Homo sapiens: one gene and its partners. The protein of the gene in region 1 interacts with the protein of each later gene in a pairwise test. Each region holds a gene or a part of one and is shown on either strand. Other genes may lie near its edges.

The links.
Region 2: the proteins of LAMP2 (region 1) and FAM177A1 interact in binary tests that used the Homo sapiens proteins (3 or more experiments, as listed by UniProt).
Region 3: the proteins of LAMP2 (region 1) and SHOX2 interact in binary tests that used the Homo sapiens proteins (3 or more experiments, as listed by UniProt).
Region 4: the proteins of LAMP2 (region 1) and COQ8A interact in binary tests that used the Homo sapiens proteins (3 or more experiments, as listed by UniProt).

Annotation. Positions count from the first base shown.
Region 1 is NC_000023.11:120,428,473-120,431,296, forward strand, and holds part of LAMP2 (lysosome-associated membrane glycoprotein 2 isoform A precursor), read right to left. Parts: 3' UTR 155-2,824; coding exon of another isoform or gene 12-154; 3' UTR 1-11. UniProt on the Homo sapiens protein: Lysosomal membrane glycoprotein which plays an important role in lysosome biogenesis, lysosomal pH regulation and autophagy.
Region 2 is NC_000014.9:35,073,772-35,077,271, reverse strand, and holds part of FAM177A1 (protein FAM177A1 isoform 1 precursor), read right to left. Parts: intron 123-3,500; coding exon 56-122; intron 1-55.
Region 3 is NC_000003.12:158,103,621-158,107,714, forward strand, and holds the start of SHOX2 (short stature homeobox protein 2), read right to left. Parts: upstream 2,801-4,094; 5' UTR 2,405-2,800; coding exon 2,059-2,404; intron 1,822-2,058; exon of another isoform or gene 1,510-1,821; coding exon of another isoform or gene 1,438-1,509; intron 1,386-1,437; exon of another isoform or gene 1-1,385. UniProt on the Homo sapiens protein: May be a growth regulator and have a role in specifying neural systems involved in processing somatosensory information, as well as in face and body structure formation.
Region 4 is NC_000001.11:226,985,294-226,988,044, reverse strand, and holds the end of COQ8A (atypical kinase COQ8A, mitochondrial), read right to left. Parts: coding exon 2,705-2,751; intron 1,593-2,704; coding exon 1,308-1,592; 3' UTR 501-1,307; downstream 1-500. UniProt on the Homo sapiens protein: Atypical kinase involved in the biosynthesis of coenzyme Q, also named ubiquinone, an essential lipid-soluble electron transporter for aerobic cellular respiration.

The sequences.
Region 1 (2,824 bases):
GATTTAACTGATTACACAGACTGATAACCAGTACGACTTTTCCTTCTTCCAATCATATAAGAGATAAAGACAACAATTATAAGGAAGCCCAAGGCCACACCCACTGCAACAGGAATAAGAAAGTTGAGGTCAGAGTCAGCAGAACATTCTTCAGCTGTTAGAAAAGAACAGACAGCAAGGAAAGGAAATTAGCAAAGAATGCAATTAAGTAGTAAAAAGCATGCAAGAAACATGCATTTTGAAAGTGTACATAGCTTAGTTTTTTATAGCATTACCTCTATTTTCTTATTTGCTCAATATCTCATTATCACTTTATCTAAAATCACACGAAATTCCTCAGTACGAAAAGCAGAAGGTAAGGGAAGAATGGGAAGGGTCCAAAATAGAGAATTGCGCTTGCCTAATATGGGAAGACTTTAGGTTTGATTATCTAATGACACTGGGTTAAGGAGCCATCATCTACACTTAAAACCACTGCCTGTGTATTTCCCTACTCTCTTTCTCTTCGTCACACCTATAATTAAAGTATAAATAAGAATTCTGTATAAGTAATAAAATTTAAGTTAAAAAAGACTTAGGATCAAGAATGTAGTATATATATACATATATATGTGTGTGTATATATATGTGTATATATATGTATATGTGTATATATATGTGTGTGTGTATATATATGTGTGTGTGTGTACATATATATATATATACACACACACACAATTATTTTTAGCTGAGCGGTGGCCTGGAAGAATAACAGCAGTATCTAATGCGTTGCAGTCCATTCCACCGAACCACCAGGAAAGCAACATGTGCAATGTAGATTTTGAGTTCTGGATTCAGACAGAACTGTGTTTAAATCTTGACTCCTTCCAGTACTAGCCAAAGGACCTTGGGCAAGTTATTTAAACTGGGCCTCACTTTCCTCATCTGTAAGAAGGGGATAATAATACCTATAAGGTATTTGAGGATTAAATACAATTACATTTCTAAAGCATCTGATACACATCAAGAGGTCAACAAGTATTCATTCTCTTCTCTTTTCCTCTTATGCTCATGATCCCATCTGAGGAGGATTAGGTTTTGAAGTAGCAAACAGAGATTAAAATAGAAGTGTTTTGGTATATTACTACTGAAAAAGCCCATATTAGTATTAAAAAAAAAACTTAAGCAAAACATAGTACGGAAGCCCAAAGTGCCCAATTCTGATCTCATAATTTCAAGTGTAAACCAGCTGTTGTTTTACTGTTGAGTGACTAGATTTCATTAGGGGCAATTTTTATCAAAATGCTAGTAATAGTTTTGTTGCCCACTTGATATGGAACCTCAATGAATTTCACTCCCCTTTCTGTAAATAATCGTTAAGGTCCTTTCCAGTAATAGCTAATGAAATTAACAAAATGTGTTATCTGGTGTGATTTATGATTAAGCAATAACTTGTACTTTTCTTCTAATTTTAACTTTTCCTCCTCTTGTACTTTTACCATTCATAAAAATGTTGCTACGGTTCTGAGTACACAACACTCATCTCAGTAACCACACATTAGCCTATGCTGAAAGAATTTACTATATTTTACTGAAAGCTCTCAAAGACTGACAGCTGGGTAACAAGATACACTGTATTGTTAATCAGGAAGTTATAGAGACTCTGATCATGCCCCTATATACATACAATGGGTTAATAATACTTCAATGTGGAAGTCTTCTAGTCTATTAAGCCTTCCTTCTTTATCTATGTTTCATGTCTGTGCTACTCTTATACCATGGAATATGCTTCAACAAGGGCTGATTATCTAGCTCATTTTAATGCCAACAGCTTCTCTTTACACCCCCATCTATGCACTGCCCCACAGGGGCCATCTTGAAGAAACAAGAGCCTAGTTGCTATGCTTCACTGCCTCCCTTCTGAGATTGCTGTTAGCTTACATTTCATAAGTACCACACTGATGACAACACTAAATAGATTTTAATGCTCCAGAGATCAACAAGATGAGGTAGAGAAACACAACACAATCTGTCCTAATTAGTTCATAGAATATTTCTATCTTTCAATACTAATCAGGCATCCAAAGAAGAACAAAACAAGAAACAAAAAAGCAAGTGGCTAAATATGCTTGGATCTTTTCAGTCTATATTGCTGAAAAACAAACAATTATCTTAAAAACTCTAATTACGAAGCCAGTTTAAGTTCTGTTGTAGCCTCTTGGGTCTGTATCATCCCTAGGGAAAAATCACAGGCTTGAGGTACTAACTTCATGCTTAACTTGAACTCAGAGAAATCAGCAAAAGTCACATAACCTTTAAAATGCTGATGGTCCTGAGGACATTCTCTACTTCATTCAACTGAAAACCAAGTTTAAGCATATCTGATGGGCATTTATACCACATCAATATTTATTTAATGAACTTTATGCAAAGGCACATTGATGAGTTTAAATCACTATAGTCCTTATACATTGAAACAGAACACCAGTAGTGAAATGACATTTATTAATTCCATTAAGACACAACTACATATTTTATTCTTATAATGGCCATGTTAATAAGTTCAAGGCATACTTCAAGGTTAGGATCAAAATTTGGCCAGGGCTTCTTAAGATAGACCTTAAAACATTGCACGTTGATGTTCTTTTGAACAAGTTTGTCTCCAGGACCAGTAAATATGACACTTTGGATTTTAAGCTGATTAAAGAGAACAGGTTTTATTAATAAAGACTGATCTCAAAATGCTGGGATTGATAAAAGAATTAAAGTTTCAACATATCAATTTTAAGAAGCAAAGTGTTTCAACAACTGAGAGGTAAGAAAATCTTGTTATTTGCATGTATTT
Region 2 (3,500 bases), on another chromosome or scaffold:
CTGTTGCTGAAGCATGTTACAGCAATTATACAATATTCAAGCAGAAAAGCAATACCTGAGAGAGTTGATGTAGCAGCCCGAAGCATGTAAAACCATAAGTAGGGACCCCAGGTAAGTTTTGTCTGCAACAAGAAATCATGTTAGCAACATTCATACCTAAATTCATTCCATATATTTAGGCCAGAATGAAGTAGTCAAATACTTGGTAGGCACCGAGAATATTCTATAGGCAGTACTACAAAGAGACTGCAATCCAATCAACAATTTAAAATCTGTAGAGTTAAAATTCCACAAAGATATTTTACATTCACCCATATAACTACCACCACCTTAAGCCCATAGAAGAATCAAAAAAAGATGCAGCCGCTGAAATGGAGTTGGTAATCGCAGTCTGGATTATTTTATGAGTTGACAATCCAGAGCTTTCCTTTCTCCTGTCTTGCTGCATTTTTGTCTCCACTATTTATAAACACAACACCAGAGGGGGTGTTCAGTCAATAGAAAGAAACTTAAGGATGCCATCTGACATACTTATGCTATAGCAGGGAAATTAAGGTTCAGAGAAATTAAGCAGGATATGTAAGGGAACATCAAATGAGCTTTTAATGGTGGGAAAATAAGGGACAAATAAGCGGCAAGATAAGTTTCGTTTGTTTCTTTAAGTCTTTTTTTTTATTATTATTATACTTTAAGTTCTAGGGTACCTGTGCACAACATGCAGGTTTGTTACATATGTATACATGTGCCATGTTGGTGTGCTGCACCCATTAACTCGTCATTTACATTAGGTATATCTCCTAATGCTATCCCTCCCCGCTCCCCCCACCCCACAACAGGCCCCAGTGTGTGATGTTCCCCTTCCTGTGTCCAAGTGTTCTCATTGTTCAATTCCCACCTAAGAGTGAGAACATGCGGTGTTTGGTTTTCTGTCCTTGCAATAGTTTCCTCAGAATGATGGTTTCCAGCTTCATCCATGTCCTTACAAAGGACATGAACTCATCCTTTTTTATGGCTGCATAGGATTCCATGGTGTATATGTGCCACATTTTCTTAACCCAGTCTATCATTGATGGACATTTGGGTTGGTTCCAAGTCTTTGCTATTGTGAATAGTGCCGCAATAAACATACATGTGTATGTGTCTTTATAGCAACATGATTTATAATCCTTTGGGTATATACCCAGTAATGGGATGGCTGAGTCAAATGGTATTTCTGGTTCTAGATCCTTGAGGAATCGCCACACTGTCTTCCACAATGGTTGAACTAGTTTACACTCCCACCAACAGTATAAAAGTGTTCCTATTTCTCCACATCCTGTCCAGCACCTGTTGTTTCCTGACTTTTTAATGATCGCCATTCTAACTGGTGTGAGATGGTATGTGATTTTGATTTGCATTTCTCTGATGGCCAGTGATGATGAGCATTTTTTCATGTGTCTGTTGGCTGAATAAATGTCTTCTTTTGAAGTGTCTGTTCATATCCTTTGCCCACTTTTTGATGGGGTTGTTTGATTTTTTCTTGTAAATTTGTTTGAGTTCATTGTAGATTCTGGATATTAGCCCTTTGTCAGATTAGTAGATTGTAAAAATTTTCTCCCATTCTGTAGGTTGCCTGTTCACTCTGATGGTAGCTTCTTTTGCTGTGCAGAAGCTCTTTAGTTTAATTAGATCCCATTTGTCAATTTTGGCTTTTGTTGCCATTGCTTTTGGTGTTTTAGTCATGAAGTCCTTGACCATGCCTATGTCCTGAATGGTATTGCCTAGGTTTTCTTCTAGGGTTTTTATGGTTTTAGGTCTAACATTTAAGTCTTTAATCCATCTTGAGTTAATTTTTGTAGCAAACTTGACAAAAACAAGAAATGGGGAAAGGATTCCCTATTTAATAAACGGTGCTGGGAAAACTGGCTAGCCATAGGTAGAAAGCTGAAACTGGATCCCTTCTTTAAGTCTTAAAAAAGGACTAGACCATAGAACCCAAGACAAGTTCAGTGCATATTTGGTAAGCCAGGGCCACTGGCAGAATGCAATCCACAATGCACACCTACGTAGTTAATCTTGGTTCTATAATTCCAAATGAATTTTGTGAAGCTTGCCAAACAGATGTTATCTGCCTCTCTAGATGAAGCCAGTGATAAAGGCATGCTTCATTGTACCAATACGTTTATCCAAAGAAAACACAGTATAAAGCCTTCAAGGAATCAAATGCATTAATAATTGTTTTCTGGAGTTTTTTTTAAGACAGAGTCTCACTCTGTCACCCATGCTAGAACGCAGTGGCACAATCTCAGCTCAATGCAACCTCTGCCTCCTGGGTTCAAGTGACTCTTGTGCCTCAGCCTCACGAGTAGCTGGGATTACAGACGTGCACCAATTGCACAAATTTTTGTATGTTTAGTATAGATAAGGTTTCGCCATGTTGGCCAGGCTGGTCTCAAATTCCGGCCCCATGTGATCCACCCACCTCAGCCTCCCAAAGTGCTGGGATTACAGGGGTAAGCCACTGCATCTGGGAAATAATTGTTTTAATATGGCTTCCAAGGAGGGGAGAAAGAGAAAAACTTGTCCATAATCTTCTTATATATACTAATGATTAAAAGGGCATTAAAAAGGCAAACACAAGAATATCTGTTAAGACTGAGTGGATGGGGCGGGGCGCAGTGGCTCACGTCTGTAATCCCAGCACTTTGGGAGGCTGAGGCGGGTGGATCACCTGAGGTCAGGAGCTCAAGACCAGCCTGACCAACATGGAGAAACCCCGTCTCTACTCAAAATACAAAAATTAGCCAGGCATGGTGGCGTGCACCTGTAATCCCAGCTTCTAGGGAAGCTGAGACAGGAGAATCGCTTGAATCTGGGAGGCGGAGGTTGCAGTGAGCCGAGATTGAGCCCCTGCACTCCAGCCTGAGCAACAGAGCAAGACTCCATCTCTAAATAAATAAAATAAATAAAAATACAAAAATTAGCTGGGCTGTAGTGGCACACGCCTGTGATCCCAGCTACTCAGGAGACTGAGACGGGAGAATCGTTTGAACCCGGGAGGCGGAGGTTGCAGTGAGCCAAGACTGCACCACTGCACTCCAGCCTGGGCAACAGAGGGAGACCCTGTCTCACAAAAAATAAATAAATAAACTCCCTTTCATATATACATATATTCTATTAGTTCTGTCCCTCTGGAGAACCCTAATAAAGTATCTAAAGCTGGAGAATTTAATGCCAGCAAAGGATGGCTTGATAATTTTAGAAAGAAGTTTGGCTTTAAAAATGTCAACAAAACAAGAGAAGCAGCTTCTGCCAAACAAAAGATAGCAGATGAGTTCCCACACATCATTAGGAAAATCATTGAGAAGAAAGGATATCTATCAGAACAGGTTTTTAGTGGAGATCAAAGTGCCCTATTCTGAAAAAACATGCCACAAAAGACATTTATTAGTAAGGAAGAGAGGCAAGCACCAGGATTCAAGGCAGAAAGGGATAGGCTAACTCTACTATTTTGTACAAAT
Region 3 (4,094 bases), on another chromosome or scaffold:
CATGTTGGCTGCCCAAAGGGCTCGCCGCCCAAGCCGGGCCAGAAGGCAGGAGGCGGAAAACCAGCCTCCGGTGGCGGGCGAAAGCAACCGCTCTTTCTGTTCTCTCTTCGCCCTCCCTCGTGGAAACGCAGACTCGACCCTAAACGCTTAACCCACAGAGATCAACAGGTTCAAGCGGAATATTCGCGATCCTCGGTTTCTATTGGTTGCTCAAAGCCTTTTCATGCAACCAGCAGCTCGGATGTTTAATAAAATATGAATTTTTCTGCTCTGGGTTTGCACACATCCGTTGCCACTTTCCTGTCCTTCTCCTCCCTTTAAAAACAGGAGCTCTTCTAGTGTGAGCATATACAGCCACCATATATATATCCCCCTGGAACCTTTATCCTCTGCGCCCGAATCAGAGACTCCGGGTTTTAAGAAGTCAAAGCTGAGTTTAGATAGTCGAGGCTGTTTGCAGTTCTTCCCAGCGCAGGATCCAGGCCAGCATGGGTGTTAAAAATCATTTCCGGAAGAGCCGGTCTGCAGAGAAATTAATACTTGCCCTGAGCTTGGAAATCAACAATCCCAGGAACTGCGCCCGCCGGGGGTTCAGACCTGAACCTCGCCGTCAGGCGCGCTGGCGAACCTGTAGTTCGGGCCTGTAGTTGTGGACTCATGGCCGGGAGGCTGCACTGGGCACCTTGACGGTAACTCCACCACTTTACAAATTTAGGAAGACCTGGTGCTGGTTTGGAGGAAGAAGAGTCGCTAGATCTCGGCCCTGCCGGGCATTCTAGCTACGGTGATCTTAAATATTGCCGTATTTTCTAGTTCTCAGAGTTAGTTTTGTGGACATTTGTCCTTTCTTTAGGAAGGAACATTATAGTAAACATTATGGGCCAATTTAATAGCAAAGTATTTTTACTGATATTGTATTGAAATTTAAATATGAAAACACACCCTTCAAATTCTGCCAATGAGGTGGGAAGGCTTTGTCTATTACATGTCATCTACACAGTGGATGCCACTCAAAGTTTTGGGGCTTCGAGGAGATGTCCAAATTTCAAGTTGATCCATAGACTTAATAAAATCTCTATTTTTGTCCCCAAATTTCCAATTACTGATCTAAACAGGAACAGACCGTGTCATAAACAACTTAATTGCTTGCTTAAATATGTGATTCCACGCATGCCACATATTTTCTTAATTGGAAAAATATGGCAGTACACCAGTTACTGCAGGCACCAAGTGCCAAATCAATTTTATTGTTGAACTCCTTTGAATTGGTATAGAACGCTCTGCCATTGAGATAAAGACGTTTCCTAACACTGAGCTAGCACCAAAGGATTTTTGCTCTAAGAGAACCGAGTACTGGGTGATTGAAAACACTAAAGGAATTGTGTAAATATAGATCCCCACCTCCCCCGCCGCCCCCCCCCCCCGCCCCCAACACACCAAGAAACCGAAACGCCTCGCCCGGGAGAAGCAGCGTAGCCTGGACCTCAGCTTTCGTTGGCTTCCTTCTACCTTGAAAGAGAATGGGAAGTTTTGGCCCCTAAGATCCAAAGATTCAGGGGCTCTGCGGAGTTCGAGGGGTCTTGGCGGCCCCAAACACCTAGGCGACCGGAGGGTTAAGCTTTCCACCTCTGCCCCTTCTCCCTCCCGGCAAACTCTGCGCTAGAGGCTAGCTTTAGTCCCGCCGTCTGGTTCAGCACCCCCTCCTGCAGCCCGGCCCCGCGAACTTCCACGTCCGCCTGCGGGCCATCCGGGCTGCGGGCCCATCCTCCCGCTGGTGAAAAATGCATTTCGGTGGAATGGGAACATCTGGGAAGGGCGCGCACAAACCCCACACGCTTCCCCCCACGCCACCCCCACAACACACTAGGACCCCACCCATGACCGAGCATACCACCGGACCCCCACCCTTCCACTATCACTCTAGCTGACAAAGCTGGGGTCCAGGGCCCTCTCCGTGTCCCTCTCCCCTCCCCGCTGGGCCTCGGAGTCCTCTCCCGCCCGAGAGGAGTCCGGAAGGCGGGAAGGGGAACCGCTGCCGGGGGTCAGTCAGGTCGTTACCCTCCGTCAGTCGCGGGCTGCCCGGCTCCCTGCTTCTCTCGGCGGCGCCCATGTCCAGCTCCCGGACGGGAGAGCGCCCTCCTCCAGCTCCTCCGCCTGCTCCTCCTCCTCCTACACCTCCTCCGCCTCCTCCGCCGCCGCCTCCGCCTCCTCCGCCGCCGCCTCCGCCGGCCGCCCGGACTGCCGGGCTGCTGCGGTCGTCGCGGCCCGCCTCGGTGCAGCCGGTCGGCTCCTTGGCCCCGCGCAGCGGCCCGCTCTCCAGCACCTCCCGGTACGTGATCGCCTCCTTCTTCTCCTTCACTTTCTGGTCAAAAGACTTGGAGACGAACGCCGTAAGTTCTTCCATCGCCGCCGCACGTCAGCCCGGCGCTCAACCTCTGCCAGCAGAGCCCCGCTCTTTTTTTCCTTCTTCTTTTTTTACTGCTCCAGCCCCCCCAATAATAACACATCAATGGGACAGGAGGTGGGGGAGGAGAGGGAGGAGGAGAAAGAAGAAGAAAAAGAGGAGAAGAAAGAAGAAAGAGGAGGAGAAGTAGAAGGAGAAAAAGAAGTAAGAAGAGGAGGAGGAGGAAGAAGAGGAAGAGGGGGAGAAGGGTGAAGAGGAGAGGGAGGAGGAGGAGGAGAAGAGAAGGGGCGGGGGCTGCCGGAGGGAAATGGGAACTGATGCTTCCCTGCCGGAGCGCGCTTGTTCAATGTTAAGATCTTTGACAATTCTTCCTGCGGAGAGTTCAGATCTGATAGCGACGCTGCGCTTGAAGTCCCACTATTTATACTTCCTAACGGCGGCCTCTTGTTTTGAGTAAATTACCTCCCCTCGCAACTCGGAGTGAGCCCCCTTCCCGGGTAGCAGTCGCGCCTCTACCGGGGGTTGGGGAGGGGAAAAGGAGAGAAACAGAGAGAGAGAGAGAGAGAGAGAGAGAGAGAGAGAGAGAGAGAGAGAGAAGAGGAGAGAGAGAGATTGGAGTTCGGGCGGGCTGGGGCTGGAGTGGTAGGGCAGCACAGGGGGACCGGAGGGGGCGGGGAGAGAAGGCCGGTCCCCGGCCGCTCAGGTTTTCAGATAGCCCCTGCCGCCTGTGCTCTTGGCCATTAATCCAGGATTGACAAGAATCCCTAATTAATTTAATTAGGCGTGGATTTTGCGTTGGTGTCACGACTTAGTTAAACACTGGGGAGCTGGATAGACCCCGCGGGGTGGGGCCAAGAGGAAACTGACAAGTGCGCAGCTCTTAGAGTCAGTCAGGTATCCCGACACTGCATCCTTCCCTACAGCCTTGCTTCGAGTCAGGGTGCCTCGCAATGCTCAGCTTCGCATTGCTTTTCCTCGTCCCTGCCCTGCATCAACCGCCCAGCAGTTTACAGGCCCCGCATCCCATTCCCGCATCCTGACCCCGCATCCCAATTCTGCATCCCCGCCTCTCCCTCACAATCCCACCCCTGCCGGCCGTAGCTCCACCGCCCAGCATCATCCTGCCCAGAGACAGGGTTGCCTGCACCTTCTCCGACCCGCGCAGCTTCTCTTAGGAGCTTCCCGGCTCGCAGGCAGGCTGAGTCCGGGTCTTCTCCAAGCTCCTCGCCCCTCGGTCCGTGTTATTCGCTCTATTATTCGTGTCCTGGAGCCCAGCTGACTCCTCTATGGACAGACCCCGCTAAAAGGGACCAGTCGATTTAACAAGTTTCCCCAGCAGCTGTTAGCTGACAGATCTCATTTTAAAGTGTTTCCTTAGCGCCCGGTCAAGGACAGCTCGACTTCGTTCGTTTCCTCTCTGAGGTCTCAGAACTCCCACCCTTCTCCCTTACTCTCTGCACTCGGACCCCTCTATGGTGAATTACAGGACTTCTTCTTTAGCATCTTGGGAAACATCCGAGTTTATTTACTAATTTGAAAAACAAGAGATTATCCCTCTTCGAGTCTGAAAAAAAAATCGACGTTAAGTTTGTACCCCCTCTAATTTCATTTATTACGGAGAGCTAAAAAAGAGACGCTCGCCAGGAGTAAAGGTCTCTCTGCCTACCCCCCCCACCACCCCGCTTACGAT
Region 4 (2,751 bases), on another chromosome or scaffold:
ACTTTCAACTGCTCACAGGTCCGTAGAAAGGGCCCCAGCTCAGTGTCCAGTGTGTCCTGTTATCTAGGAATCAGTCTGGCCCCAGGAAAAGCCACTTTTCAGGACGTGGTCCTCAACTGCAGCTGATGTCTAGAGAGGAGACGTCTCACTGTGATGCAGACCTGGCATCAGCCGTGCTGGCAGGTGTCACTGTCCTCCCAGTTGCCACCATCACCAGGTACAGCAGCTTCAGCAGTGTGGTACAGCCTCCCGGGGGCTGGGGCAGTGACACCGCAACCTCTCCTCCTGTTCTCCACCCCTCCCACCTCCCTTCTTACAGGGAACGGGGCTGAGCCTTCCAGGTTCAGGGCCAAGGGCCTCACGCTGAACCAGTCCCAACCCTTGCAAATGGGCTGTGACACTGAACCTGCTGACCGTCAGGTCAGAAAAGAACCACCACCACGAGCTAGAAGATACGGGTCGTCATTCTCCAGAATACAGAAGAGGGTACACGCGCCAAAGCACTTCCCATGAGCATTTTTATTAAATTGAAACAAGTTGTTGATTCGATAATTACAAGACTTGTACAAAAATTCACAGCGCCTGTGAGGAGCCTTTGGCTGGAACTGGTGACACCTGTGCCTCTCCGGACAGAGGAAGGAAGTCCCACCCCGCCTTCCAGCAGCAGCGAGCCTGTGTCTGGCATTCCCTGTTCCGCTGCTCCCACCCTCACTGTGGGGCAGCAGTTCTTTAGGAACATTCAGCTGTCAAAGGTGAGAACCAGCCCCACAGGCCTGGGCCTCGCAGGCTTAAGGAGCACTTGTTGGCACTGTTAGCTCAGCACCTCTCCCAGCTCCAGCCCATCGGCTGGAGAGGAAAAGGGCAGAAAACACAAATCTCACTCTAGAAACACATACACACACCTACTACACAGATGATAAAATCCCACAATCGTATCTGTTCATGTTTCTGGGTTTTGCACTGAACAGAGATTGGAAGGGAGTAAGGACTCTCTCCCTTCTGCTTAACATTCACATCAGGAAAAAGAAGAAAACAAAGTTGCCCTTTCATCTTCATCTGCTTATTTCAGAGGACACACGGAGGCAGACTGACCGAGCAGTGGGGCTTCATCTTCATTCTTGCACTTCTCACCCTACAACCATTTAGCAACAGAAACCGTGGAAAGCGCTGGCTACGGGGCTCCAGGCAGCCACCCCCCTTATTGGGCAAAGGAGTTAAAAAGAGCATCACCACGACCTCGCTACTGGTTTTTGGCCTGTCTGAGGGAGAGAGTTCCCGCGGAGCCGGCCTGGGCGTGGCCCGCAGCCCTACTGCTGGGCCTGCCTCTTGCAGTAGTTGCTGTAGGCCTCCTCGAACATGGCCTTGCAGGGGAAGCGGGCCTTCAGCTTGGAGCAGATGAGGAAGGAGCCCCCCATCTTCCTGTGCAGGGAGTAGGTTTCCTCGGGTGGGGGGACGAGACGGTGCCTCAGCATGACGGGAATCAGGTTGTGGATCTTCTCGGTGGTGCTCTGAGTGCCAAAATCAAAAGGCTCATCAGAGGCGAAGGCCTCCCCCAGGATGAGGATGGCATCCAAGTGGGCGTCTTCCATGACCTGGGGCAAGAGAGGAAGGATAAATGGCGGCGAGACACCAGAGCCCTCCACCAGCCCGGGTTCCTCCCACAGTGCCCGGGGCGCTGAGTTCTCATTCAAAGCTCTGCTGTAAACTGGATTACATCATGGTAATGGGCATAAACTCAAACCCACAGGGGCCGGGAACACGAGGGTAACATGGACTGGGCTGATGTGATACAAAAGGGAGTGGCGGGGCCTGTGGCAGAGTGCAGAGGATGCGTCCCGCCTCGTGGCACTCATACAGAGTTTTAACAAAACACTGTTCTGGCCAAAAAGAACAGAGTCCGTGGGCCTAAGCTGGCAGGGCCTCCCACCATGCGTGTCTGAGCCTGCCAGAGTCCACCCAAGACACACCCAGCAGCCGTGTGTCTGCCCACGGGAACTAGCAACCTAAGGAAGCCGCCGCCAGCAGAGCAGGGGAGAGGAGCTGCCGCCAGGGACAGCCCAAGGTGGTCAGAGGGACGGGGCGGCCAGGAATCGAGTCAGTGCGAGTGGCCATAAGGAAGAGGCGGGAGAGAGCTGCTGCCCGCTGAGCGCTTACAGCTGAGATAAGGGGGGCTCAGAGATACTGACAAGCCTCAAATGACACTCCTATGAGACGGCAGACCCAAGGCTTGACCTGGATTTCTTTAACTCCTTCCCCACTGTCAAGCAGCAAGCGGAAAATGCCACTTTGTGGGTGGCTTCAGGCGGCACCAGCACAGACCGTTCCCCTTTATTTAAAAGGCTTCTAAGGTTTCTTCCAACTCCCCCCAGGGAGGCTCGATGAGGGGAGGGCTGGGGCTTCCCTTCCCACTTGCTCTGCACGTTGGCTCAATCGAGGCCCAACCCCAAGCCCTAAGTGGGCAAGAGTGAGAGGCAGAAACAAGAGCTTCACGACAAGTCCCCAACTCACTGGCCCACTCGGAAAATCTCACGCTCAGCAGGGCAGCATGGGCCGGGGTGGGCCCCAGCTTTCAGACCGTGCCCAAGGAGGCCCGGGCTCTGGGGGCCCCTTGAGGGCAGCTGCCCCCTGTGCTTTCATCCATTCTTACACAGGGAGCCGGGCCCTGGGTCAGCAGGCCCAGGGGATCCCCCGCAACCCTGCTCACCTTGACCTCGTAGCCGGTGAGGAACTTCATCTCTATGGATTTCGCCC